Linked DNA regions of Homo sapiens: all the other regions are linked to region 5. The links come from fine-mapping of genetic effects on gene expression. A gene starts in region 5. Each other region holds a variant in brackets. All regions are shown on one strand. Distances are between the middles of the regions.

The links. PIP is the estimated chance that this variant, and not a neighbour inherited with it, causes the effect. A credible set is the group of variants that fine-mapping cannot tell apart.
Region 1: its variant is the best candidate, but not a certain one, in a credible set for the expression of RAB29 in whole blood (INTERVAL, PIP 0.82).
Region 2: its variant is the best candidate, but not a certain one, in a credible set for the expression of RAB29 in putamen (GTEx, PIP 0.84).
Region 3: its variant is the best candidate, but not a certain one, in a credible set for the expression of RAB29 in fibroblasts (GTEx, PIP 0.52).
Region 4: its variant is the best candidate, but not a certain one, in a credible set for the expression of RAB29 in visceral fat (GTEx, PIP 0.76).

The regions. Positions count from the first base shown.
Region 1 is chr1:205,694,602-205,700,558 of GRCh38, reverse strand. No RefSeq gene overlaps it. Among named protein-coding and RNA genes, the nearest start is that of SLC45A3, 17 kb to the right of the region's middle. The variant G/A (reference allele first, on the strand shown) is at 3,415.
Region 2 is chr1:205,905,720-205,911,676 of GRCh38, reverse strand. No RefSeq gene overlaps it. Among named protein-coding and RNA genes, the nearest start is that of SLC26A9-AS1, 26 kb to the left of the region's middle. The variant C/T (reference allele first, on the strand shown) is at 3,429.
Region 3 is chr1:205,650,202-205,656,158 of GRCh38, reverse strand. No RefSeq gene overlaps it. Among named protein-coding and RNA genes, the nearest start is that of ELK4, 21 kb to the right of the region's middle. The variant G/A (reference allele first, on the strand shown) is at 3,012.
Region 4 is chr1:205,814,451-205,820,407 of GRCh38, reverse strand. No RefSeq gene overlaps it. Among named protein-coding and RNA genes, the nearest start is that of SLC41A1, 4.2 kb to the right of the region's middle. The variant T/A (reference allele first, on the strand shown) is at 3,583.
Region 5 is chr1:205,771,931-205,777,887 of GRCh38, reverse strand. RAB29 (RAB29, member RAS oncogene family) reads left to right here and starts at 2,406. Exons shown (of 6, transcript NM_003929.3): 1 at 2,406-2,615; 2 at 2,802-3,055; 3 at 5,321-5,392. The coding sequence starts at 2,932. RefSeq lists an enhancer at 3,492-3,541.

The DNA of each region.
Region 1 (5,957 bases), 77 kb after region 5:
AGAGAAACAGGCAGAAGAAAGAAACCGGAAACACAGTTGAGAGTACAAGCCCTTTGAGGGCAGGAGACCTTTCAAGTCTTTTGTGTTTGGTTTTTTGTTTTGTTTTGTTTTATTTTGTTTTGTTTTGTTTTGTTTTTGAGATGGAGCCTTGCTCTGTCGCCCAGGCTGGAGTGCAGTGGCGTGATCTCAGCTCACTGAGGGATCATGCCACCTCTGCCTCCCATGTTCAAGCAATTCTGCCTCAGCCTCCTGAGTAGCTGGGATTACAAGTGTGCACCACCAGGCCAGGCTAATTTTTTTATTTTTAGTAAAGACAGGGTTTCACCATGTTGGCCAGGCTGATCTCAAACTCTTGACTTTAAGTGATCTGCCCACCTTGGCCTCCCAAAGTGCTGGGATTACAGGCCTGAACCACCGCACCGGCCTCAAGTCTTTTTTTGAATTAAACTTTTTATTAAGATCATTGTAGATTCACATGCAGTTATAAGAAACAATACAGAGAGATCCCTTGTATACTTGCCCAGTTTCCCCCATTGATGACATTTTGCAAAACTACAGTAAAATATCACAACCAGGATATTGACGCTGATACAATCCAACAACCTTATTCAGATTTCCTGTTTTATTTGTACCTGTATGTGTGTGTGTGTTGAGTTTTATACAATTTCATCACCCACATGTGAGTATCCACCACCTCAATCCAGATTCTGAACAGTTATAACATGAAGAGGTCCCTTATGTTGCCGTCTTAAAACCACACTTCCTCCCTTCCCATTCCCCTTTCTGTACCTGATTCCTGGCAACTACTATTCTGCCCTCCAATTCTAAATTTTCTTTCAAAAACCTTATATAAAGGGAATCATATGGCATGTGACTTTTAGGGATTGGCTTTTCTCTTGGCATAATTCCCTACAGATTCATCCAAGTCATGGCATAAATCAATAGTTCATTCCTGGCTGGGCACGGTGGTTCACACATGTAATCCCAGCCCTTTTGGAGGCCAGGTGGGCAAATTGCTTGAGCTCAGGGGTTCAAGACCAGGCTGGGCAACATGGCAAAACCTCATCTCTACAAAATATACAAAAATTAGCTGGGCGTGGTGGTGTGTACCTGTAGTCCCAGCCACTCGGGAGGCTGAGGCAGGATAATTGCTTAAAACCAGAAGGCAGAGGTTGCAGTGAGCCGAGATCATGCCACTGCACTCCAGCCTAGGCAACAGAGCAAGACTCTGTCCAAAAAAAAAAAAAAAAAAAAAAAAAAAAGATATAGTTCATTCCTTTTTATTGCTGAGTAGTAATCTGTGGTATATTAGTACCAGAGTTTGTTTGAACATTCACCTGTCAAAGGACATTTGGGTTGTTTTCCATTTGGAGCTATACAAATAAGGCTGCTATGGACATTTATGTGACAGTTCATTTTTATATGAACATCAAGTTTTTACATGCTTGTCTATCCAGTGCCAGTATCGTGCCGGGCACACATCAGATCCTCAGTCAGTGTTCCTTGGAAATGACTCAGGACAATCTGCTCTAGCACTGTAGTCCAGGTGGGAGTAGGGAAGAAAGCAAGAATGACGGTGGGGGGTGGTCATTTCCACGAACAATGAGCCAAAAATCAAGGCTCAGTCTGATGAAAGGATTGATCAAAGGACGCATGGTCATGATTAGTATTAAGCAGTTGGGACTACAGGAGGCCAAAATTACATATAGTGAACAAATGATAATATATGGGTGAGAGTGACAGTGGACATGGCATGGGACAGTGTGTGAAATGATATACATGCAGGTTACAGGAATCCTGAAGCAGCTCTAACAGTGATGACAGCAGGGGCTTTGGGAACACCTTATTCAAACCCCGCCTCCACCACTTTTTAGCTGTGTGTTCTGCGCAAATTACTTAATCTCTCTGAGACTACATTTTCTAACCTGTAAAATGAAGATATAATAGTATCTTTCTCATAAGAGTCCTGAGCAATGAGTAAAATAGGATACATAAAGTTCTTGACTCACAGTAGTCCCTGAATGAATATTAGTTTCCTTTCTGCCTCCCCACCCTAATGGCAAGTAAAGAAGTAATAGATATTAGGGGTGCAGTGACTCATGTCTGCAGTCCCAGCAATTTAGGAGGCTGAGGCAGGAGGATCGCTTGAGCCTGGGAGTTCAAGGCTGCAGTGAGTTATGATTGTGCCACAGCACTCCAGCCTGGGTGACAGAGCAAGACCCTGTCTCAAAAAAAAAAAAAAAAAAAAAGTCGGGCTTGGTAGCTCACACCTGTAATCCTAGCACTTTGGGAGGCTGAGGCAGGCGGATCACCTGAGGTTAGTAGTTTGAGACCAGCCTGGCCAATGTGGTGAAACCCTGTCTCTACTAAAAATACAAAAATTAGCCAGGCATGGTGGCTTGCGCCTGTAGTCCCAGCTACTAGGGAGGCTGAGGCAGGAGAATCGCTTGAACCTGGGGGGCGGAGGTTGCAGTGAGCCAAGATTGTGCCACTGCACTCCTGCCTGGCGACAGAGCAAGACTCCATCTCAAAAAAAAGAAAAAAAAGAAAAAGATTTTGGGGCTGGCTAGTCAGGAAAGACCTCTGAAAAGGAGTTTGGTTTAAAGAAAGCTTGTAGGGGGCATACGAGTAAGACAGAGGACAGACTGAACTCAGGCAGGGAGACTGGACTCAGAAGTGGACTGAATTAGATGCAGGCCCCCTCTTTGGAGCATAGGGATTGCCTCAAAGCAGAGCAGGAATTCACAAATAGGGTTTGGCCCAAGGGGTCACTAGTTCAGTTACTGCTTGGCTGGGTACTCCACACTCTGTTTTTTCTGCTTTCAAGGTGAGCTTCTCCTTACTTTATTAAAGGCCTGACACAGACAGTGTGCATCCCTCTTTGGAGCAGCTACCAGGGTGTGTTGGACAAGATGCTCGCCTGCCCCTCTCCTCCAGCCCAGCAAATGCAAACCATCCACCAAACCACCCCCTCTTCAGATTCCAAACCCCAAGCAGCCAAAGTCCTTGGTCCCTCCAACGCCTTCCAGAAAGTGCCTGGCCCTGCACAGCCCTCCTCCCAGGGCTACCTTTGATCTCACGAAGACACTTGACCTTTTGATCCCATCATGGGACTGTTCCCCAGCCCTAGGCCACTGGAATGGGGGGAAATAGAACCCTCCTTTCCTTGTTCCCACTCTTGTTTCTTTTGAACATGGGTTACCTCCCTTCGCGTCTTTTGGAACAGAAGGGGATCATAAGCTCTTGAGTCTCTGTTTTCTGCTGTCATCTACTCTTCCTGCCTCTGGCACCTCCCAGCTCCTGACTTCCTCCTGCTTCCCCCTGGAGCCAGAGATGTGGCTGGGAAGAGCCCCTGGCCTTTGAAGCCAGTGGTGGTGGTGACCAGGGGCAACAGGCCACTGTGCTCCTGGATGC[G/A]TGGTCTGCCAGTTCTCTCTCCCATCGCCCTTTGGGCCTCCGGTCTTGCCTCCTCCAGAGTGGGCATGGGGTAGGGGAGATAGAAGGAGGAGGATAGAGACAGAGTTTGCTTTGGATGTGGCCAGTCTAAAAGAGCCCTTCCACCTCATTCAAGGCCCTCCCCACCACTCTAGTGGTCACAGCACATTTTCTGTTCTATTCCAAACTTCTTTGTGCCAATCATTACTTTTTTCACTGGTTTTATTGATCCCTCCTGAGGCAGGAGGATCACTTGAGCCTGGGAGTTCAAGGCTGCAGTGAGTTATGATTGTGCCACTGCACTCCAGCCTGGGTGACAGAGCAAGACCCTGTCTCAAAAAAAAAAAAAAAAAAGTCGGGCTTATAGGCTCTCGAGTCTCTGTTTCCTGCTCTCATCTACTCTTCCTGCCTCTGGCACCTCTCAGGTCCTAACTGGAGCCAAATTTATACCTCCCAAAATGACCTTTAAAAATGTACATTATGGGGCTGGGCATGGTGGCTCACGCCTGTAATCCTTGCACTTTGGGACGCCAAGGTGGGAGGATCCCCTGAGGTCAGGAGTTCGAGACCAGCCTGGCCAACAGGACAAAACCCTGTCTCTACTAACAATACAACAACAAAAAAAATTAGCTGGGTATGGTGGCGCATGCCTGTAATCCCAGCTGCTCAGGAGGCTGAGGCAGGATAATCTCTTGAACCCAAGAGGCAGAGGTTGCAGTGAGCCTAGATCATGCCACTGCGCTCCAGCATGGGCAACAAAGCGAGATTCCCTCTCAAAAAAAAAAAAAAAGTACATTATGGGTAGACCGGGCGTGGTGGCTCATGCCTGTAATCCCAGCACTTTGGGAGGCCGAGGCAGGCAGGTCACAAGTTCAGAAGTTTGAGACCAGCCTGGCCAGCATGGTGAAACCCTGTCTCTACTAAAAATACAAAAGATTAGCCGGGCATGTTGGCGTGTGCCTGTAGTCCCAGCTACTCGGGAGGTTGAGGAGAATTGCTTGAATCTGGGAGGCGGAGGTTGCAGTGAGCCAAGATCACGCCACTGCACTCCAGCAGGGGCAACAGAGAGAGACTCTGTCTAAAAAAATAAATAAATAAATAATAAAAATAAAAATGTACATTATGGCCAGGTGCAGTGGCTCCCACCTATAAGTCCCAGCACTTAGGGAGGCTAAGGCAGGAGATTCACTTGAGCCAGGGAGGTTGAGGCTACAGTGAGCCATGATGGCGCCACTGCACTCCAGCCTGGACAACAGAGGAAGCCACTGTCTCAAAAAAAATTTTTTTTAAGTCAATTACATCATGTTACTCCTCTGCTTGACTCCTTCTAATGTCTTCCTGTTGTGTGAGAATGAAATACATATGGTCTAGTTTCTGCCCACTTATCTCACCCCATTTACGCCTCTCGTACTCTGGCTTTCTTTTTTTTTTTTTTGAGACGCAGTCTCACTCTGTCGCCCAGGCTGGAGTGCAGTGGTGCAATCTCAGCTCACTGCAACCTCTGCCTCCGGGATTCAAGCAACTCTTCTGCCTCAGCTTCCCGAGTAGCTGGGATTACAGGCGCACGCCACCATGCCCAGCTATTTTTTTTTTTTTTTTTTTTTTGTATTTTAGTAGAGGCGGGGTTTCTCCATGTTGGTCAGGCTGGCCTTGAACTCCTGACCTCGTGATCTGCCCGCCTCAGCCTCCCAAAGTGCTGGGATTACAGGCGTGAGCCACTGCACCCAGCCAAATATTTCACTGGGTGATAAATGAATCCCTCTGATATTGCAGTGAGATTGGAGAAGGCCCATTTGTGGGCAGAACGCTGGCCTCGGAGACTAGAAAACCAAGTATAGGAACAAAATAAACCAGACAAGTTTAGGTTTGCATCCTAGGTTTGCCATATATTAGCTGTGTAATCCCAGACAAGTTACTTTACTTCTTTGAATTTAATTTTCCCCATCTGTAAAACAGAAATGCTATCGCTTAGCTTCTAAGATTGTGGTGAGGAGGAGAGAATTACATGAAAGTGCAAAATAGATATGGATTAAAAATAATCCACGTGGTTATCCAGAGATAGTAAAACAGAGTCTGGGTGCCGTTACACAATAATCTTGCCTCCATTCCTTTAATCAACTGTATCATGCTCTTCATTTAAGGAGGCTGCAATACGAGGCAACCCTGATGGAGGGATAAACAGAATGCCACCATCCACAGACTAAATCCAGGCCACCGCCAGGTTTTGTTTTGTTTTGTTTTCTGTTTTTGTTTTTTGTTTGGTTGGTTGGTTTTTTTAGGCAGAGTCTTGCTGGAGTGCAGTGGCGTGATCTTGGCTCACTGTGACCTCTGCCTCCTGGGTTCTAGCGATTCTCCTGCCTCAGCCTCCTGAGTAGCTGGTACTACAGGCGCATGCCACCACGCCCAGCTAATTTTTGTATTTTTATTAGAGATGAGGTTTCACCATGTTGGCCAGGATGGTCTCGATCTCCTGACCTCATGATCCACCCGCCTCGGTCTCCCAAAGTGCTGGGATCATAGGCGTG
Region 2 (5,957 bases), 130 kb before region 5:
AGAGGTATGGCATGGCTCCTGGGAGGGGCTGGCAGATAAGACCACCCAGAACCATTATTCCAACAGAGGCTTAGTAGGAGGGTTTTGAGTGGCACATAAGTAGCATCTGAATTGGGTACATTTCTTTAGCCTTTCATCTTCCAAACCCACTGTAACCTATGTAGTTGTCTAACTACAACATGGCATTAGTCGTATATTGAGGTAGTATAGAAGCATTTGTAAGACAGCCATCTCACCATTCTAGACTGGAATGGGGTAATTTTAAGACTGTGAATCCCTGAACATGCCCAAGAAGAGGTAAGCTAACCACCTGCCAGGGATGTTGTCAGAGGAGCTCCTGCTCTAGATGGTAGATCAAACAGGATGACACTAAGACCTTCTGTCTCTAAATTGCATAACATGAAAGCAGATTCTTTAGAATTATGCGAGTTACTTCTTACTTCCAGAGCTGGAAGTAAACACTTTTCCTTCAACAAAGATTTTTGTTTAAATAAGAGGTTTTTTTAAACAAACTTTTTACTTGGAAATAATTTCAAACGAATAAAAAGTTGCAAAACTAAAAGTATCACAGGAGGCTGGATGCAGTGACTCACACCTGTAATACCAGCACTTTGGGAGACCAAGGCAGGAAGATCATTTGAGGCCAGGAGTTTGAGACTAGCCTGAGCAACAAAAGGAGATCCCCACCCTTACCCCCCATTTCTACAAAGACAATTTAAAATTTTTAAAAATTAGCTGTGCACGATGGCACATGCCTATAGTCCTAGCTACCAGGAAGGCTGAGACAAGAGGATCACTTGAGTCCAGGGATTTGAGATTACAATGAGCTATGATCGCATCGCTGCACTCCAGCCTGGGCAACAGAGCAAGACCCTGTTTTCAAAAAGAAAAAAAAAATCACATAATAAACACTGTATGCTCTTTAATCTGGTTCACTTATGGTTAACATTTTACCCCATTTGCTTTATCATTTACTCTTTCATTGTCTCTCTTTTCTTTTTCTTTTTTTAGACAGTCTCACTCTTGTCGCCCAGGCTGGAGTGCAATGGTGTGACCTCAGCTCACTGCAACCTCTGCCTCCTGGGTTCAAGCGATTCTCCCTGCCTCAGCCTCCTGAATAGCTGGGATTACAGGCACCTGCCACCAGGCCTGGCTAATTTTTTTGTATTTTTAGTAGAGACAGGGCTTCACCATGTTGGCCAGGCTGGTCTCGAACTCCTGACCTCTGGTGATCTGCCCGCCTCGGCCTCCTAAAGTGCTGGGATTACAGGCATGAGCCACCACCACTGGCTTATGTCTCTTTTCTTTCTCTCTGTGGACATGCATAACTTTTTTCTGAGGCATTTGAGGATGAAGTCCTTTAACTTTAAATACTTCAGTGTGTATTTCCTGAGAGATAGTGTCTTACATAATCACAGTACAGTTATCAACTTAATGCATTTACATTGATCCAATACTTTTATCTAATCTACCATTCATATACCAATTTTGTCAGTTTATCTAATGAAGCATTTTTTCCTCTCCAGCACAGGATTTAATCTAAAGTCAGGTATTGAATTTATTTTCTTTTTTTCATTTATTTATTGAGACGGGGTCTCACTCCATCGCCCAGGCTGGAGCGCAGTGGAGCTATCACAGCTCAATGTAGCCTCAACCTCTGGGGCCAGGTGATCCTCCCACCTCACCCTCCCAGGTAGCTTGGACCATAGGTGCACACCACTACTCCTGGCTAATTTTTGGTATTTTTTGTAGAGATAGGATTTCTCCATGTTCCCCAAGCTGGTCTCAAACTCCTCAGCTCAAGCAATCCTCTTGCCTCGGCCTCCCAAAGTGCTGGGATTACAGGCATGAGCCACCATGCCCGGCCAGGTACTGAATTTAGTTGCATGTGTTTTAGTGTCCTGTTATCTGGAACGTGTCTACAACTCGTCTTTGTCTTTTACAGCATTGACATTTTTCTAAGATTGTGGTTCACCCACCCTTTCTTTGTATTCCTCATTTTGCATTTGTCTGATATTTCCTTATGATTATACTGAGGTTTTGCATTTTCTCCCAGAATACTCCATAGGAAATGCTCTGTCTTTTTCTGCCTAACACATCTGGAAGCACATAATGGCCACCAGTCTCTCATAGGTGAAATTAATTTTGATTACTCAGTTGGGGGTATTGCCTGATTTCTCCACTATATGATTACTGGGGTTGTTTTTTTTTTCTCCCTTGCAACTTATAGTTTGTGAGGACACACTTTAAGACCATGCAAATATTCTGCTGCTCATTAAAATTTCCCCTAGGTTAAGTATCCATTGACAATTCTTGTCTGATCCTATCAATACTACGATGATTGCAAAATGATGATTCTCCAATCCCAGCACACCCTCTACATTTACTAGTCCTAATAGGCATCCTACTATAACTAAGAACACTCGCTTCTCACCTTTTTCTACAATTTCCTCAAAATTGTATATGTATGTTTGTGTGCCTGTTTATGTGCACATGTATATGTATGAATATGTATATATGTGTGTATGTACATTTGTATGTACGGGTATGTAGCCCTGGGCCACATAACAATGTTTCAGTCAATGACAATCGCATATACAATGGGATCCCATAAGGTTATAGTTCTGTATTTTTATTGTACTTTTTGCTGTGTTTAGATACACAAATACTTAGCATTGTATTATAGTATGCAGTACAGTAACATGCTGTACAGGCTTCTAGCCTTGGAGCAATAGGCTATACCATGTAGTCAAGGTGTATAGTAGGCTATACCATGTAGTCAAGGTGTATAGTAGGCTATACCATCTAGGTTTGTGTAAGTACACTCTATGAGGTTCACACAATGACAAAATCACCTAAAGAGACTTTTCTCAGAATGTGTCTCCATTGTTAAGCAATGCATGAAGAGGGCCCTAACTAGACATCGAATCTGCCAGCAACTTGATCCTGGACTTCCCAGCCTCCAGAACAATGGTGTGTACATGGATATATTTCCTAGTGCTGACTGCTGAAAGTTCCAAGAAGTAATGACACCCAGTAAAAAGGAACAAATCTAGTACCCAGATTTCAGCTTCTAACACCATTCCTTTCTAAAAGGAGACAGAACTTCTTAAAAGAAATGGTTGATTCCAAGGCGGGGATAGGATTGGATACAAGATAAGTCTGGAACATATTTTTATACCAGAAAGCAAGGAATTGTTCCAAAAAATTGATGGGAGTATGTTACAAGGTCACAGGAACCAGATCAAAGTGGTCTCTACGTGCAATTTAAGCACCAAAATAATTAAATACAAGGATGAATTTTAAACCATTAAAAACAAGAATTGAGCTCATACCAACGATGATGAGAGAGAGAGAGAATTAGAAAGGCTTTCTAGTTGCTAGAGACTGTGTGTTTTGCCCCAAAATTCATATGTTGAAATCCTAAC[C/T]CCCAAGGTGATGGTATTAAGGGCTTTTGGGAAGTGATTAGGTCATGAGGGTAGAGTCCTCATGAATGGGATTAGTGCCCTTATAAAAGAGACCCAGAGATATCTCACCCTCTGCCGTGTGAGGTTACAGTGAAATGACAGCTATCTATGGAAGAGGAAGAGGACTCTCACCAACATCAAATCTGCCAGCACCTTGATCTTGGAATTCCCAACATCCTTGGTTTCCCTTGATGTTGTCATCCCAACATCTGAGTTCTGGAAAGGTGTAGTGGCTACTGGCCCCCAGAGGAGGGCACACTGCAGAAGTGGCATGACAATGTGAGGAGTTCCACTGACCAGCTCCCCTGTGAAACTGGTGAAAATTACTAAAATAAAATAAAATAAAATAAAGCCTCGAGAAATAGTCCCAAGGGCAAACAGCAAATGAAGACACATCTATTCAAGAAAACCTATGAAAATTTAATAAGAAAGCAAAAGCTATAAGCCTAAAACATCTTTATGTTAGCCCCAAAGTACATCTATAATAGCCCCCAAGTACATCTTTATGTTCTAGGTGAGGATGGACCCTACAAGATATAGAGGAAGGTCAGTCCTTACTGCGGATAACTGAAACTGTGGGTTTCACTTTCCACAGTTTCAGTTACCCGCAGTCAACCCTGGTCTGAAAAATATTAAATGGAAAATTTCAGAAATACACAATTCATAAGTTTTAAATTGCATGCTGTTTTGGGTAGCATGATGAAATCTTGCACCATCCTGGTGTATGTTCTGCCTGGAATGTGAATCACCCCTTTGTCCAGCATATCCATGCTTATACACTATGTGCTCATTAGTCACTGAGTAGCATCTCAGTTATCAAATTAACTGTCACGGTATCACAGTGCTTGTGTTCAAGTAACCCCTATTTTACTTAGTAATAGCTCCAAAATAGGCCAGGCATAGTGGCTCATGCCTGTAATCCCAGCACTTTGGGAGGCTGAGGCAGGCGGATCATAAGGTCAAGAGATCAAGACCATCCTGGCCAACATGGTGAAACCTGGTCTCTACTAAAAATACGAAAATTAGCTGGGCGTGGTGGTGCACGGCTGTAGTCCCAGCTACTCAGGAGGCTGAGGCAGGAGAATTGCTTGAACTCAGGAGGCGGAGGTTGCGGTGAGCCCAGATCGTGCCACTGCACTCTAGCCTGGTGACAGAAGGAGACTACATCTCAAACAATAATAATAATAATAACAACAACCCCAAAGTACAAGCATTGTGATGCTGGTATATTGTTATAATTGGTCTATTTTATTATTAGTCGTTAATATATTACTATGCCTAATTTGTAAATTAAACTTTATCATAGGTATGTATAATATATACAGCAAAAAGGCCGGGCACGGTGGCTCACGCCTGTAATCCCAGCACCTTGGGAGGCTGAGGCGGGCGGATCACGAGATCCGGAGATCGAGACCATGCTGGCTAACACGGTGAAAACCCATCTCTACTAAAAATACAAAAAAAAAAAATTAGCCAGGCATGGTGGCAGGCGCCTGTAGTCCCAGCTACTCGGGAGGCTGAGGCAGGAGAATGACGTGAACCTGGGAGATGGAGCTTGCAGTGAGCCGAGATCACACCAGTGCACTCCAGCCTGGGCGACAGAGCGAGACTCCGTCTCAAAAAAATATGTATGTGTATATATATACATATATATACATATACATATATATATATGTATATATACATATATATATATACACATATATATATATATATACATATATATATATATACACACACACACATATATGCAGCAAAAAAATACTATAAACAAGGTTTTGTACTATACAAGGTTTCAGGCATCTATTGGGGGTAGATGGAATATGTTACCCACAGATAAGTGGGGGACCACTGTAGGTTTTTTTAATTTAAGAATATGGTATTTCTTCCCATTTGTTTAAGTCTTCTTTTGATAATTTCATAAGTGTTTCCATATACCTCTTACACACTTCTTTTTTTTGGAGACAGAATCTCGCTCTGTCGCCCAGGCTGGGGTGCAGTGGCGTGATCTCGGCTCACTGCAATCTCCATATCCCAGGTTCAAGCGATTCTCCTCTCTCAGCCTTCCGGAGTAGCTGGGACTACAGGCATGCACCACCATACCCAGCTAATTTTTGTATTTTTAGTAGAGACTGGGGTTTCATTATGTTGGGCAAGCTGGTCTCGAACTCCTGACCTCAAGTGATCTGTCCGCCTCAGCCTCCCAAAGTGTTGGGATTACAGGCGTGAGCCACCATGCCCAGCCAGCACTTACACATGTCTTAAGTTTAACCCTAAATGTTTTTTACTGCCTTTATAAATGGAATTTCTTTTATTGTATTTTCTAACTGGTTGTTGTTGTTTACATACATAAAGGCTATCAATTCTGTATATTAATTGTGCATCCAGATTACTTACTGAATTCTCTTACAATGTTAGTAGTTTTGCTTTTGATTGCTTCAGCTTTTTCAGCTATACATTCTGTCTGCAAATAATTATAACTGTACCTCC
Region 3 (5,957 bases), 120 kb after region 5:
GGAGTGCAGTGGCATGATGTCAGCTCACTGTAACCTCCGCCTCCCAGGTTCAAGCAAATTCTTGTGCCTCATCCTCCCGAGTAGCTGGGATTTACAGGCACGCACCACTATGCCCAGATAATTTTTTGTATTTTTTGGTACAGACGGGGTTAACCATGTTAGCCAGGCTGGTCTGGAATTCCTGACCTCAGGTGATCACCCGCTTTGGGCTCCCCAAGTGCTGGGATTACAGGTGTGAGCCACCGTGCCCAGCCAGATTTTTATTTATTTTTTGACAGGACTATTTCATAAGCGGAGCTGTGGAGATGGCATCATCTCATGTGGCACATCATGCCTCACTGTTCCACTTTCAGTGGGTTCAGGTGATGTCAGACTGACCCATCCATTATACGGTTTGTGGGTTTTTTTGGAGACGGGGTCTCACTCTGTCACCCCGGCTGAGTGCAGTGGTGCAATCATAGTTCACTACAGCCTCCACCTCCTGAGCTCAAACAATACTCTTGCCTCAGCCTCCCAAGTAGCTAGGACTACGGTGTGTACCACCACACCAGCTAGTTTTTATCTTTGTAGAGATGTTGCCCATGTTGGCCATTATAAAGTGTCTCATTAACCCTTCTCCTAAACCATTGATGATCATTGCCTAGATTCTATTGCATTAGATATGCAAATTTATGATTTTCTAGTTCTATCACTCCTTAATTACTTATTCGGTATGAGTCTTCCATAAAGAAAATGTTTTCCTCATTCATTATTTGATTATGCTAAAATATGGTTTGTATGGGAAAACTATGATAAATGCTTGATACTATCCCATCACTTACCAATTTTTGGAGTAATCAGATGATGCTCTAACAGCTACCAAAGGTGATCAGTGAGGTTATTGTTTTAAATTAATTATCATTACAAACTTGTGGATTTCATGCATTTGTGTTTCAATCCATTGCAGTTGGTATTGTTGAGGCTCAAGCTGTCCATCTGGGACCTCCTTCCGGATGTTTCCTGTGTTCTTTTGACCACTCCAGTAGCCTTTGATGTTTCCTTGATTTTAGGCACAAGATAGCTCAAGTTCATCTTGTCCATTTCCTGCCCCAGACATGGACTTGGCCATTTCTCAATCTCTGGTGCATGTCAGGGACCACAATCTGAGTACAGGGTTGCTACTAGGTTGGCCTTTTTTTTTTTTTTTTTTTTTTTAGGTCTTTTCAGTGGGCATAGCTAGGAGATGTTTATCTTTCAGAAACAACAAAAAGTAAGTTAATACTGATGTTCCAAGTCAAATTAAATATTGCAGGGTGGCTGGGCACGGTGGCTCATGCCTGTGATCCCAGCACTTTGGGAGGCTGAGGCGAGTGGATCACCTGAGGTCAGGAGTTTGAGACCAGCCTGAGCAACATGGAGAAACCCCATCTCTACTAAAAGTACAAAAATTACCTGGACGTGGTGGCGCATGCCTGTAATCCCAGCTACTTGGGAGGCTGAGGCAGGAGAATCACTTGAACCCGGAAGGTGGAGGTTGCAGTGAGCTGAGATCGTGTCACTGGACTCCAGCCTGGGTGACAAGAGCAAAACTCCATCTCAAAAATATATATATTTTGCAGGGGCCGGGCGCTGTGGCTCACGCCTGTAATCCCAGCACTTTGGGAGGCCAAGGCAGGCAGATCACGAGATCAAGACCATCCTGGCCAACATGGAGAAACCCCGTCTCTACTAAAAATACAAAAATTAGCTGGGCGTGGTGGCGTGCACTTGTAGTCCCAGCTACTCGGGGGCCTGAGGCAGGAGAATCGCTTGAACCCGGGAGGCGGAGGTTGCAGTGAGCTGAAATTTTGGGTTCCTAGTCATATTAACATAATTACTTATATGCTTTATCATTCAGTCTATATAAGTTTCCAAAGTGACAATAGTAATATATTGCTGACAATAACATTACTAAATGAAATTTAAGATTTCTTTGTGGTTGTTTTAGTCCTTGGGATATATCCAGTTAGGGACATATATTCAAAATGCTGTTTTAAACTTTTCTTTTTTTGAGATGGAGTCTCACTCTGTTGCCCAGGCTGCTGGAGTGCAGTGGCACCATCTCAGCTCACTGCAACCTCCACCTCCCGGGTTCAAGTGATTCTCCCACCTCAGCCTCCTGAGTAGCTGGGACTACAGGCACATGCCACCATGCCTGGCTAATTTTTTTTTTTTTTTTTTTTTTGTAGTTTTAGTAGAGACAGGGTTTTGCCATGTTGGCCAGGCTGGTCTCAAACTCCCCACCTCAAGTGATCTGCCTGCCTCGGCCTCCCAAAGTGCTGGGATTACAGGCGTGAGCCATCGCGCCCAGCCTGTTTTAAACTTTTTGTCATGGAGATGTTAAATACCTACAAAAGCAGAGAGAAGAGTATAAAGAATGCCAATGTACTCATCATTCATCTTCAGCAATTACCAGCTCATGGTCAACATTGTTTCATCAATACTTCTGTACATTCCTCTTACATAACATTGAAGCAAATTTCAGATAGCATATTTCATTAGGAAATATTTCAGAATATATCTCTAAAAGATAAGGACTTTTTTTTTCTTTTTTTTTTTTTTTTGAGACATAGTTTCACTCTTGTCGCCCAGGCTGGAGTGCAATGGCACGATCTCTGCTCACTGCAACCTCTGCCTCCTGGGTTCAAGTGATTCTCTTGTCTCAGCCTCCCAAGTAGCTGGGATTACAGGCATGAGCCACCATGCCTGGCTAATTTTTGTATTTTTTGTAGAGATGGGGTTTCACCATGTTGGCCAGGCTGGTCTGGAATCCCTAACCTCGGGTGATCTGCCCATCTCGGCCTCCCAAAGTGCTGGGGGATTACATGCGTGAGCCACCAAGCCCGGCCAGGACTTTTTTTTTTTAAGTAGTCACGCTACCATGATGATACCTAAGAATAGTAATTCTTTAAGATAAGCAAATATCCAGTCACCGTTTACATTTCCCGGCCTCATAAATGTTTGGGGGTATAGTTTTTTTCAAATTGGAATCT[G/A]AATAAATTCCATACATTGCCACGGGCTGATATGTCTCTTAAATCCTCTTGTAATCTTGTTATTAAATCCTCTTGTAATCTTTTTTTGTTTGTTTTGAGAAGGAGTCTCACTCTGTCACCCAGGCTGGAGTGCAGTGACTCGATCTCGGTCACTGCAACCTCCGTCTCCTGGGTTCAAGCGATTCTCCTGCTTCAGCCTTCCAAATAGCTGGGATTACAGGTGCCTGCCAGCACGCCCGGCTAATTTTTTTGTATTTTTAGTAGAGACGGGGTTTCACCACGTTGTGGACAGGCTGGTCTCGAACTCCTGGCCTCATATGATCCACCTGCCTTGGCCTCCCAAATTGCTGGGATTACAGGCTTCAGCCACCGTGCCCATTTCTCTTGTAATCTTTTAATCCAAAGGTATGTCCTCGATTATTTTTTCTTTACTTGTTAAACGGAGTTTCTGTTAGACCATCTGTATTCCCATGGTAAATTTTTTTTACTGCCCCTGTATTTTCTGTAAACTGGTAATTAAAGTCAGAGACAACAGATTTGGTTTGTTTGTTTTTGCAAGAATACTTAATAGATTTGTACTTCCATATAAGGGAGCATATACTGTTGGGCTTTTTTTTTTCTTTTATTGGGACAGGGTCTCACTCTGTCACCCAGGCTGGAGTGGTGGCTCACTGCAGCCACGACCTCCTGGGGCCAGGTGATCCTCCCATCTCAGCCTTCTGAGCAGGTGGGACTGCAGGTGTGCACCACCACTCTTGGCTAATTTTTTTTTTAGACGAAGTTTCGCTCTTGTCACCCAGGCTGGAGTGCCATGGCGTGATCTAGGCTCACTGCAACCTCCGCCTCCCAGGTTCAAACGCTCGCCACCATGCCCAGCTAATTTTTGTATTTTTGATAGAGATGGGGTTTCACCATGTTGGTGAGGCTGATCTCGAACTCCTGACCTCAGGTGGTCTGCCTACCTCGGCCTCCCAGAGTGCTGGGATTACAGGCCTGAGCCACCGCACCCGGCCTGCTTGGCTAATTTTTGTATTTTTTTGTAGAGACGGGGTCTCACAAAGTAGCCCAGGCCAGTGGTTGTCTTCTGTTTTCGGTGTTTGCAGTCATTGATAACTTTACTTAGATCCATTATTTCACAGGGGTTGTAAAATGATATTATATCATGTATATCTATCTATCATAGGATATTCTATCATTTCTATCTATCATAGGACATTCTATCATTTCTCTCTGTCATATAATATTGTATCATTTCTATCATAGGATATCCTATCATTTCTATCTATCATGGGATATTCTATCATTTCTATCTATCATAGGATATTCTATCATTTCTTTTTTTTTTTTTTTTTTTTTTGAGACGGAGTCTGGCTCTGTCGCTCAGGCTGGAGTGCAGTGGCATGATCTCGGCTCACTGCAAGCCCCGCCTCCCGGGTTCACGCCATTCTCCTGCCTCAGCCTCCCGAGTAGCTGGGACTACAGGTGGCCGCCACCACGCCCGGCTAATTTTTTGTACTTTTAGTAGAGACGGGGTTTCATCGTGTTAGCCAGGATGGTCTCGATCTCCTGACCTCGTGATCCGCCCGCCTCGGCCTCCCAAAGTGCTGGGATTACAGGCGTGAGCCACCGCGCCCGGCCTTCTATCATTTCTATCATAGGATATTCTATCATTTCTATCTGTCTATCATGGGATATTCTATCATTTCTATCTATCTATCTATCATAGGATAGTCTATCATTTCTATCTATCATCGGATATTCTATCATTTCTGTCTATCATCGGATATTCTATCATTTCTATCTATCATAGGATATTCTATCATTTCTATCTATCATAGGATATTCTATCATTTCTATCTATCTACCATAGGATATTCTATCATTTCTAACTACCATAGAATATTCTATCATTTCCATCTATCTATCATGGGATATTCTATCATTTCTATCTATCATATGATATTGTATCATTTCTATCTATCATAGGATAGTCTATCCTTTCTATCTATCTATCATAGGATATTCTATCGTTTCTTCAACAAGTGCATACCTCCTTCCTTGTACCCACCAGTTTTCTTTTTCTTTCTTTCTTTTTTTTTTTTTTTTGAGATGGAGTCTTGCTCTGTCGCCCAGGCTGGAGTGCAGTGGTGCTATCTCAGTTGACTGCAACCTCCGCCTCCCAGGTTCAAGCAATTGTACTGCCTCAGCATCCGAAGTAGCTGGGATTACAGGCACCTACCACTACACCCAGCCAATTTTTGCATTTTTAGTAGAGACGAGGTTTCACCATGTCGGCCAAGCTGGTCTCGAACACCTCACCTGAGGTGACCCACATGCTTTGGCCTCCCAAAATGCTGGGATTGCAGGCATGAGCCACTGCGCCCAGCCACGCACCAGTTTTCAAAATAATGAATTGATTCCCTAGCATCCCCTGATGATGGCAGAGGTTTCTTCCTTAGTTTCATGATGTTTTCATGGATTTAAACATATTTGTTGTGTTTAAATCCTTTGCAGTTGTTATCCTTATTCATGTTCAAATTGTCCCCATCTTTGGCCAGTGGGAGCCTCTTCAAGTTGATTTCTGAGTCCTTTGACACAATCCTAAATGGTCTTTGTTTTGTTGTGTTTTGAAGTCAGTCTTGCTCTGTTGCCCAGACTGGAGTGCAGTGGTGCGTTCATGGCTCACTGCAGTCTTCACTAAGTGATCTTTCAAAGCTTCTTTGCTTTCTGGCATGACTGGATGTGCAGGATTAGCTTGTATTTTTACTGCCACAGACCTGGAATGAGCTATTTCTTCTAAGGGTCTTTGGTTGCTTCTTATGGAAATGAGATTTAGAGACCATAAATACCATGGCCATCAGAAGTGTTTGTTGTTACTGAGTTGGTCATTGGTTTTAGGCTTTTTCCGTTGACAAAGCTAGGAAATTTGTGATTTTGTGTGTAAGG
Region 4 (5,957 bases), 43 kb before region 5:
GTCTTAAAACTAGACAGAGTGATGGTTGTTCAACACTATCAATATAATAAACACCAATGAATAGTACATTTTAAAATGGTTAAATTCATGTTATGTGAATTTTACCTCAAAAAATAAATAAATCCAAAAAAAAAGTTATTTAGGAGGTAGAGTCGATGGATGGCAAATGGTGATTGATGGGTGGTGGGCGAGGAGGCGGGGAAGTAGAGGAAGGAGTCAAGAATGACTCCCAGATGGCTGACAAACAAATGGGCGAGGGAATCCTCTTTTCTGGGATGGAGAAGACAGAATAAGAAATAGACATCTGGGAGAGAACTAGCGCATTTTGGATATCACAAGTTGGAAGTGCTGAGACATCCAAGTTCAGAGCTCAGAAGAGAAGTCTAAGACAAAGATATTTGGGCATCATGAACAGAGCATCATAAATGGACACTATGCAAGTGAATGAGACTCCATATGTAACGGTCTGACAGAGAAAGAAGGCCCAGATGTGTAAATTACAAGGTGTCAGCAAACATCACAGAAATTTTAAAATATAAGGTATTTCAAAATTAATATAAATTTTAAAATATAAAGTCTCTGTGTTCAAGGACTTTGTGATCAAGCATAAAACAATACGTTCATGTCAAAGAAGCCTTCAGCTCTGTAACATATCACCAAAGCCTACCATTTCATCTTTCATTTAACACGTCCCTACGTGCATCCAACCACATGTTGAAGAACCTGCTGTTCCTTGAAAATGCCAAATTCTCCCTTGCCTTCCTGCCATTTCACTCTGTTCTCTCTAACTGGAATAATTCTTTCCCATTTCCAATTCTTTTAGGCATATACTTAGGAATGAAATTGCTCAGTGATATGGTAATTCTGTGTTTAACCTTCTGAAGAAACATCAAACTGTTTCCTATAGCAGCTGCACCACATTATATTCTCACCAGCAAATGGACAAGGTTCCAATTTCTCCACACTCTCACCAACACTTGTCATTTTCTGTTATTTTCTCTCTTTTTTTTTTATGGCCAACCTACTGGATATGAAGTGGTATCCCATTGTGGTTTTGATTTGCAATTCTCTAACAACTAACCTAAATAACTTTTAAATCTATTTACCATTCTCCAACCCACTGACCTCATTTTCCACCTGATATATTGCAACAGCCTACCTCCTAGGGTAATTATTAGGATTAAATGAGTTTGCATATAAACCCACACAGTCAGATTCAATCAAAGCACCTCCATGTCTTTGAAGACTTCCTGAGCCTTGCCTTCCTGTGACAAAATATACCTTTGTCACAGTGTTTCCTCCTGTGACAAAGGTATATTTTTGTTAAAGCTCCCCAGGAGATTCTAATATGCAGCCAGGACTGAGAACCACCAGACTGGGGCAGTTTCCCAACCCAGTAGGATCATGGGAGTCACCTGGGGCACTTATTTAAAAGGGTAGGTTTCCTGGCCCAGCACCAGACGTTTGGAAACAGAATTTCCAGGAAAGAGGCCTGGAAATCTATATTTTAAAAGAAGTTCCCAACAGGTGATTCCTATGACCAGGCCAGTTTAGGAAACCCTGGTCTAGAGGATAATCCTAGAGCAGTAGGCAGTAAACACAGAGGGCAGTTTGAAACTAGGTAATCTGGTTTGCAAGATACAGTCTTTTTGCATCCTGGCTCTTGCAAGATAAAGTTTGCTCATCTTTGGCTTGTGACCCACTGTGGGGTTGCTGCCCCTATTAGCTCCTACCTGCATCTATGTAAGAGACTGTCCATCATTAACCCTTTCCAGGTAGGCATGCCCTCACACTCTGGGAAGTCTAAAATTTCACGTGAGGCCCAGAAAAAGCCTGAGCTGCCCGTTCCAAGTGCCTAATCCCTGTTTATTGGCTGTTTCTCTTTGGTGAGATCTTAACAGTCCTACTGCGTGCAGGGAATGTTCCAAATGCTATATTATCCTAATCCTCTCATCATCTGTGAAGGCTAATGCAACTCCATCTTGGATGCTAATCCACCATGTTGACTTCTGATTAACTCCAGTTCTGGAAATGCCTCTAAGATTTCTATTTTATCTACTATTCCTTGGTAAGACCATATACTTATCATAAATCCTGCTCTTAGGTTAAAACAACTGACCATAAATCCTGCCCTTAGGGAACTTCACATAGCATTCTCGCCTTTCCCTACAATTGTCCTACACATTCCTTCCCTGTAAGGTATAGGTATTCCTTCCTTATAAGGTATTCAAGCCCTGGTCTTACTGCTGTCCGGGATATAGACAGGGCTTCTGTTCGCAAGTCCCTATTAAATGCTTCTTTCAAGAAACCAGATTTGTCAGCCTCTTTGGCCTCTGAGCTTTCTCAGACTTTGGGGGTAGGTTTGCATAGAACTGCTCACCATGGAACATATATTGCAGAAAGGGAATTATGTCTCCATTTGATAGACATGGCCCAAGGTCATGTGCCTAATGAATTGCTGAGCCATTCATGGATTCAAATCCATGTGATTACAATGCTGTGGCATATTCCACTCTGCAGCACTGCCTCTCAAAGATTACTTTTCTATCCCCAGTTATAGTTCACCAGACCATTTTGTTTGCTGTCAAGGCTTCCCAGCTATACTCAGTAAATTCAGAGCTGCAGCTCCAAATACCTGGAACCATCCTGCCTAAGGGAATCCCAGGGTGGGTATCCAGGGGGCTTTGGGGAAAGGGAGCTCAGTTATAGAGAAGCAAAGGGAATGATGACAGTGCTGAGCACAGATGGCCACACTTCCCTATCCCACCCCCATCACTACATCCTCCTAAAACTGAATGAAGCCGGAAGGGGATGTCACCTCAGCTCTGGGCAGCAGGAAAGAAGTTGACCTCTGGGAGGGAGGGAGCAGCGGAGGGGTCACAGCAAGGGGAAAAATGGGAGGGGGCACCCTCCCCCACAGAACAAAAGATAGAAAAGTTTCCAGCCACGTCAGGCTAGTCTTACAACTAGCCATGCTGGTTAGGGGGTCCAGGATCTATGGGGCTCTGGAATTTTATGATGTCTCAAGATGAGTATTCAGGTAGTCTATGGAGAAGCCATTGGTAGACAGTACTTGGCCCAGAAGGAAGGCCATGGGGCTAAGAGAACCTCAGGATAGAGGCTAAATTAACCACATATTAGGACAAGTGCCAAGCAAGACTGAAGAATGCTGCCCCACAGAGGACCTTCCCACACAGGCTCCTCCACAGGCCCCTGCCTGTGGAGTGATCAACAATTCCTTTTGCCACAACACTCTTTCCCACCCCACACCCAACATATGCTCATATTCTAAATGAAAACACTGTGCTTGCTATACAAATGATGTTTCATGACAAGTCACCCAGCCTCTCTCCAACTAGATGGCGTCCCCAAGCTCAGTTTATATAAAAATTTGGGGTGCTACTACTAGCTTCTAGTTAAATGCCACATTATGTTCTGAAAGACATGAGGAGGGGATGCTGTGAGTTTGTTAGGGTGGTGCAAGGGGAAATTTCTGTCTCCCAGAGTAACAGGAATCAGTGAGACTCTTGACCAGAGCTGGTCAAGGATGCTGGAGAGAAACACAGCAAGAGAAAAACGCTG[T/A]AGAATGCAACAGGCCTATGAAAACAGTGCATGGAGAAGAGGCTGATTCGGTGGTCTTCCATATTCAGGATGGACATTACAGGCCATGAGGAAGTTAAAGCTGATTTTAAAAAAAGAGTTGCCCAATGCAGGTTAGGAATAAGACCCTCCAACCAAAGTTTCAGGGAACCTCCTTTGGAGAAAGAAATGTGTTTCTAGGTGTGGAAGAGCTCTCTTGGCTAACAAGCTCAAAGACTGGGCATGTCTTGAGGCAAGAGAGAGTCCACATGACCTTTGGAGGTTCTTGTCATACAAAGGTCCACAGTGATGCTCAGAGACCCTCACTATCTTTTTGATACCCCCAACTGCGTCTCTCCTTCTGAAGTATCTGGCTGGCCTGCTACTTGCTGGTAGTTCCTGTCTTTTCATCTGTGACCTCCGCTCCCTACATCTGTGCTCATCATTTCACAGACTGTAGCTATTTCTGCTCTTTCAGTAGAGAAGGGCCAGGATGTCTTCCTCTTCCTAAGGTCACAGCTGGCTAAGCCAGAGGAAATCTGCTTCCCCCAGGTCCTCTTGGTGTTTGACTCTAGGGATCAGCACAATACAGAGCAAAGTACCTACATCAGCTTTATCCACCTCATCCATCATTCATTCAACATATTTATTAAGTACCTACTATGTGCCAGGAGCTGGGTTTACACTAGTGATCAAAATAGATATAGAGATTATATTCTTGTTCCAGTGGCCCTGACACTTCAGAAGACACCAAAACCAAGGGCTTTTGTATTTATTTACTCATAGAAATATTTGCAATACCTATAACCAACAAAGGACTCGTATCTGATATTCATAAAGAACTCCTACAAAGTGGTAAGACAGGGCTGGGCTCAGTGGTTCACACCTATAATCCCAGCACTTTGGGAGGCCAAGGCGGGCGGATCACTTGAGGTCAGGAGTTAGAGACCAGCCTGGCCAACATGGTGAAACGCTGTCTCTATCAAAAATACAAAAATTAGCCTGTCATGGTGGCATGTGCCTGTAGTCCCAGCTACTCAGGAGACTGAGGCAGGAGAATCACTTGAACCCAAGAGGTTCCAGCCTAGGCAACAGAGCAAGATACCATCTCAAAAAAAAAAAAAAAAAGTAGTAAGACAGAAGGAATAGAATAATAGAAAATGGACATGATACTTGAACAGATATCCAAGGGTCAAATAAATGCATGGAAAGGTGGTCAACTTCATTGGTTATCAGGATAAAGCAAATTTAAACTACAATACCACTATACACCCACCAGAATGGCTAAATTTTTTAATTTTTCTAGATTGACAATATCAAGTGTTAATGAGAATATAGAGCAACTGGAACACTAAGACGCTGCTGGCAGGAGTGTAAATTAATATGAGCACTTTGAAAAATTGTTTAGTCGCATTTGCTAAAGCTAAAAATATGCATATCCTTTTATGACCCAGTAATTCTATTCCTAGGTATATATCTAGTATAAATATGAACGTAAGTGTACCAAAGGACATGAACAAAAACGTTATCGCAGCCTTATTCATAATAACCCCAAAGTAGGAACAACCAAAATGTCCGTCAACAGAATAACAGATAAATTGTGGTATATTTATTTAATGGCATACCGTACGGCAATGAAAACAAATAAGCTACTGCTACCACAATGTTTTGGATGAGTTTCATAAACATAGTATTGAGTGAGAGAAGCCAGACACAAAATAATACCTACTGAATGGTTCCATGTATATAAAGTTCAGAAGTAAGCAAAACTAACCTGTAGTGTTAGATAAACGTTACTTTTGAGAAGGAGTGTGGCATAGTCACCAGGAGCGGATAGAAGGAGGGTATCTGGGATGCCAATAATGATCTCGTTCTAGATCTGGATGGTGGTCATATGGGGGTGTTCACTGTGTCATCATTTGTTGACCTGTACACTTAGGTTTCGTGTTCCTTTCCTAAATGCCTGGTATATTTCAATTAAAAAAATACACACAGGAGAGGGGAACAGTTTTCGAGTAAGTAAAAACACGGAAGGTAGAAAGGAAATAGGAGAGAGATCAAGATTTTATACACAGGTAGCTGAGCTGTGGCCAGATTAAATGGGGTAGTGGAGGGGAGGGAACTGTTGAATAGAACAGGGCAGAAGTTGCCTCCAGCCCAACCAAAGTTCCTCCAGATACATCAGCCTTAATTCCCCACCCAACCCCACACCCCGTATTCACAAACCTCATCTTTCTGGACAAGTCCCAGCATTTCCTAGACTAGCAGCTACTTCTCCTGGCAGAAAAACCCAGTATTTGAGGCCAAAACTGGGGTCTGAGACACTGATATTTTGCTCTAGTAGGTCCTGTGAGTCTGCAGGCCCTTGATGCAAATGC
Region 5 (5,957 bases):
TGAGGCATACCGCCCTCAAAAACTTATTTGTAAACAGGATTGGACCCAGTTAGAAAAAATGAACGTACTTGTTTAGGAAGATTGCATTGCAGAACAGGCAGAGATGCTGCACAATGATTCCTATGGAATCATTATTAATTGGTCCCCTAAGGGGATGTTTAGCTTGAATTGCACCTCTCAGTCTGCGTGCCACGGCCACACTATGTTCAGCTGGTCTGAACAAAATGGTCAGATGGTAGATATAATAAGAAGTACAGCAAGAGTTCCTATTATCTGGAACCATGGCAGTATAGTGACACCTCAACCTCAAATGATATGGCCCGCTCTAGGAGCTTAACATAAGGATTTAAAATTAAAAGAAGAAATATTTAAAGCATCCGAGGCACACTTGACCTTAATGCCAGGAACTGGAGTGCTTAAAGGAGCCGAAAATGGATAAAAACACTTGGAAGCTCTGTGATTTCAATGATGATTGTGCTTTTAATCTGTGTTGTTTGTCTTTGTATAGTCTGCAGATGTGTATCCTGACTCCTGCGAGAAGTAGCTCACCGTGACAAAGCTGCCTTTGCATTTATCAATTTGCAAATCAGAGAAGAGGGACATGTTGAGAGCAGGCCCCCCAAAATCTGGCCATAAACTGGCCCCAAAACTGGCCATAAACAAAATCTCTGCAGCACTGTAACATGTTCATAATGGCCCTAACGTCCACGCTGGAAGGTTGTAAGTTTACAGGAACGAGGGCAAGGAACACCTGGCCCGCCCAGGGTGGAAAACCGCTTAAAGGCATTCTTAAGCCACAAACAATAGCATGAGTGATCTGTGCCTTAAGGACATGCTCCTGCTGCAGTTAACTAGCCCAACCTATTCCTTTAATTCGGCCCATCCCTTCGTTTCCCATAAGGGATACTTTTAGTTAATTTAATATCTATAGAAACAATGCTAATGACTGGTTTGCTGTTAATAAATACGTGGGTAAATCTCTGTTCGGGGCTCTCAGCTCTAAAAGCTCTAAAGGAAATCAGACCCCTGATTTCCCACTTCACACCTCTATATTTCTGTGTGTGTGTCTTTAATTCCTCTAGCGCCACTGGGTTAGGGTCTCCCCAACAGAGCTGGTCTTGACAGAATATCACTGATCAGAGATAAAGAACAAATAAAGTGAAGATAGATCTTTGACACCAAGGACAATTCACTAAAGAGTTTATCGAATGATTGACTCAGAGACCAAGAATCAGGCCTTAGGAAATACTTAGCGGGAAATGGGATGGAGAGAAACCTGAAAGAAAAAGATAATCATCAGAGAAGTACGGGGATGACAAAGAAAGAACAGCGTCATAGAAGGCATAAGGGAAACAAATGTCAAGGAGTGGTCAACTATGTCAAAACGAATAAGAACAGAGAAAACTGGATCCTTAAAGATGAGTAGCTTGAACTAACCTCCTGTACCTGGGTAACGAACATTCTGGGCAAAATATATTGTGAACCATGCTGATGTTCTTTCGCCACAAAACATAAGTGATAGCCTCTCTATCAAGAGACCTAGATTTCCTAGTGTCTGGTCCTGGGCTGTTTTCCCATGGCCCCGCTGGTTCTCTTCCTCTATTCCTAGAAAAGTATAGAAAATGGAGCTCTCTTTGCTTGCCATTGAGCTCATGTCCTGCCAACTTCTACCCAAGTGACAGGTAGGTCAGTAAAGTTACAGGCTGAGAAATTAAAATTATTTGCCAAACACTAGTTTTATGATTATCTATTAACAACAGCCACAACAAATCAAGAAGGAGTCCCAGTGTATTTCAATTAGCTTCTAGCTCAAGTGATACATGAGTAGTATGGCTAGAATAGGCATTGTAGAAGTATGAATGGAGAACTGTCTCTTGTTTTCTGTCCATCTTTATTGTTATTGCTGGATATTAAATGCTGTAATTTTTGGCATAGGTTTTTTTCCAAAGACTGGTCTCTTGGGTCAAGTTTTCCTGAACTTGCCTGGTATTGGGCAAGTTCACACAGAAAATATGAGTCATTTCACAAAGTCCTGGGCTTGTCTATCTACTTGAAGGAATAGGAAATGGACTTCACTTGGAGCATGATGGATGAGGCTTGGGCTTTTACTAATGAAATAAGTTTCAATCTTAACTCAGTTAAACCTTTAAAGACAGGAGAAAACTATCTGGGGATGGATTCAGGCCAGTGAGATCACGTTGCACAAATCTCCCCTTAAGGGATCTTTACTGACCTAGAATTGTTTCAAAATAAGATTCCAAACTGTCGAGGGAGTTTGAAGCCTTGAAACTTGGTGTAGGTTTGCTTAAAACAAAATAACGAATATACTACATTTCCCAGGAGGCTTCGCGGTGAGCCTCCGCACTCGGCTGGTTCTCTTTACCGCGAGGAAAGCTGGGAAATGTAGTGCCACAGGCAACCCTGCACGTGACGCTTGCGGAGGAAGGGGAGAGAGAGGCGCGCGGGAGGGCGTCTAGGGAATCGAGGTGCCGGCTGCTCCTTCCTCACAATTTGGTTTGTGCTGCAAGGGGAGGGTCCCCATCATCTGGCCCCAGTGGTGTAAGGAGCTGACTGGGATTCAGTCACTGACTTGGAGCCGCTCGGGGGAAGTCCCGGTGGGTGAGGTTCCGCGGCGCCTGGTCCAGTTTCTCGGCAGTCAGGCCAGGAGGGGGTGGGGAAGGTGCGAACAGCCGGGGGCTCGGAGCTCGCGCCCTGCGCCCCACCCAGGTTGCGGCCGCCCGGGGAGGAAGCGCGTATAGGTTGAGTGCAAAGTTTCCTTTTTTGCTTTCTCGTCAGAGCAGCCCAGACAGGCGGTGGGTGGGAATGCCTCACTTCAGTTTGAAGAGGGTCCGGATCCAAAGGGGTTAAAACGAGCGACCCCCGATCCCCGACCACACTTCCCGCCTCCCTAAAACGCACACCCCGCTAGCCATGGGCAGCCGCGACCACCTGTTCAAAGTGCTGGTGGTGGGGGACGCCGCAGTGGGCAAGACGTCGCTGGTGCAGCGATATTCCCAGGACAGCTTCAGCAAACACTACAAGTCCACGGTGGGAGGTGAGACGTCTCGGGGGTGGGGAGGGGGAGGGGGAGGAGGAGGCCCCGACCGCGGACTCGAGCTGGGGACCCAAGTGGGGTGGGGATTTGCTGTCGGTTGTTGGGTCCTTCTTCGGGTCAGGAAGTACTGTCTGGGAACCTAGATGGTGTAATTGCCGGGTGTTTGGTTTACACGCCTCTCTTGAGTTTCCCGTTAGATTTTCCCAAACTGAGCCCACTGCCAGGAGAAAGGTAAGAGCAAAGGCGTGAAGATGAGAAATAGGGAAGGGAGGATGAGGATGAGCAATTGCTGTTTATTGCAGGCGTACTGTGAACTTAAGTCTCCAGCCTTTCAGCTGTCCGGCAAATCTCTCCAATCAGCAGAAGCAGCTGAGATCCTCTGTGGGGCCTCCTGGTTAGGTGCCGGCTGGGGCTGTAGTCCTGCCCCTCTGTTGAGGGAGGAACCGCAAGGTGTTTAACCTGGCTTCAGTGGGAGAACGCAGGAAGCGGAACTGGTCTGAAGGACTGTAGCTTTGTTGTGGGGCTGTGGGTGGGATGGAAGACACAAAATCCCCGAACGAGCCCCTTGGCTACGCAGTCAGATGCCCATGAGGGCTGATGAGCTGTGTTTTTGTCCGTTGATTGCTTAAATAAAGGTAACCAAGGAATTCTTCCAAGAATGTGAAATATACCACTTCTCTGACCTATCTTCCCACCACTTTTTTCCTCAAACTGGAGAAGGTAGGGAGGAAGGGGACACCGAGTTCATTCATTTCTTTCCCGGGTGTGGCCTTTGGACTCAACTATTTTTTCAGAGGCAGAAATGCCTTATTGTTAATTAGAAGGTATTTAGCTAGGAAGAGCTGGTGATGGGGGAGAGTAACTTAAAATTTTATTTCTCTCTGTTAAAAGAACTTGTTTCAAGGGGGGAAAACTCGTACCAATGGAAAAATTGAAAATGTGTGCTCCTGTTCATATGGAAGTTTAAAAAGAAATTAACAAACATTTACATTGCAATTAAAACATTCTCCTTAAGAACCCCCAGTAGGGCCCAGTACCGTGGTTCATACTTGCAATCCCAGCACTTTAGGAGGCTGAGGCGGGAGGATTGCTTGAGCCCAGGAGTTCGAGACCAGCCATGGGAAACATGGCAAGACCCCCACCTCTACAAAAATTAAAGAAGAAAGTAGCCGTGGTCCCAGCTACTCGGGAAACTGAGACGAGAGGATTGCTTGAACTGGGGAGGTCGAGGCTTCAGTGAGCCCCGTTCGCACCACTCACTGCACTGTAGCCTGGGCAACAGAGTGAGACCCTGTCTCAAAAACAAAGGAACAAAAAATTTAAGTCTGGCAAAATTAAAGGTTCAAAGTTTCAGACACTCTATCCTGACCGCTCTGCCCTCCCACTCCTAAATAATATAAGGGTCCCTATTTCACGGATTTGGGTTAAAAGTGGCCTGCTATTAATAGTTAATTTTTAACAATTGCTGTAGTTTTCCTTTAGCAAAGAATATAATTGGCTAATTTTTTTTTCAGTGTTTAGTCTAAATTTCCCTTAGCTTTGATTCCTGTCACAGATGTGAAAGATAATATTTCCAAACCTCAGAAATTACTCTGTTTCTCTCCTTAGCCAAAAGGCTTTCCCCATGGAATACTTACTCAGCCTTAAGGAGTCTCAGCACCTGCAGACTTGGTGGTAGATTCCAGCAGGACTCTTCAGCAACATCCACACAGTGTCTTCTTCTTGGGACTCCTCTGGGACCTTTTCCATTTATTCCATTCTTGCCCAAGATAATACCTGCAACCTTATGGTGGATGTAGAGTTCCCCAGGGTGTGTTCTTTTCATAATACAATTTGATTAGAAACCAACAGTGAAATTGAATGTGGAAGATACGAAAGCAACCACACTTGTCTCATTTCCCCCTTCTCCCCCATCACCCCTTCCCTGAGAAAACCCCCTAAATCTCCCAGAAACTATTTAACCTGAGAATGAGAATTGTTTTCATAGTTACTCCCACCCCCAGTCTTGGAGACAAACAGTAGCAAATAAATGAGCTTGACAGTAGAGTAAAAGCTGGAAACCCCTTTGGAGAGTGAGTATGAATCATCCATCTCACACTAAATACACGCATGTGGACTCATCTCAGTGAATTGAGGGCTTAAAGTTAAACATATGGGATTGGAGTTGTGTGTCCATAGGGTTTCACTGCCTATTTGATTTGAGTTTATCCCTATTAATTTTTTACAGTGAAATTTTATTAAAGTATAATGTACATATATTTTCAGTGGATTTTGCTCTGAAGGTTCTCCAGTGGTCTGACTACGAGATAGTGCGGCTTCAGCTGTGGGATATTGCAGGTAAAGTGGGAGGGCTAGATAGGAACAAGGGAAGAAATTTTGATTTAACTAGAAAGCTCTGAGGAAAAAATGGGGCAGCAAAGCCAGAAATTGTTTTTCTGAAGCTGGAATGATTGAGCTGCTCTGAGGACACATGAGCTGAATAGGTGCAGAGCTTTTGTAGATGTTTTGCCCTGAATAGATCTGGAGCAGTCTCTATGTGGATGGAGGGGCTGGCAAGGTGGTGGATTGTCCAGACTATAGGTGGACACTCCCACAGCAGGGGAGGGTGCTTTTTCTAGGTTTAAGGCTGACCTTGGTGAAAAACAAGATCCCCAGAAAATAGATACAGTAAAAATAGTGAATCCTTACTATGTGCCAAGCATTCTTCTAAGTATTTTAAATTCACTGACTCATTAATCCTCACATCAACCCTATCATAAAAGCTACTGCTTTTGGAGAATTGCTTGAACCTGGGAGGTGGAGGTTGCAGTGAGCCTAGATGGCACCACTGCACTCCAGCCTGGGCAACAGGAGTGCAGGAAACTGTTTCAAAAAAAAAAAAAAAAAGCGACTGCTTTTATCT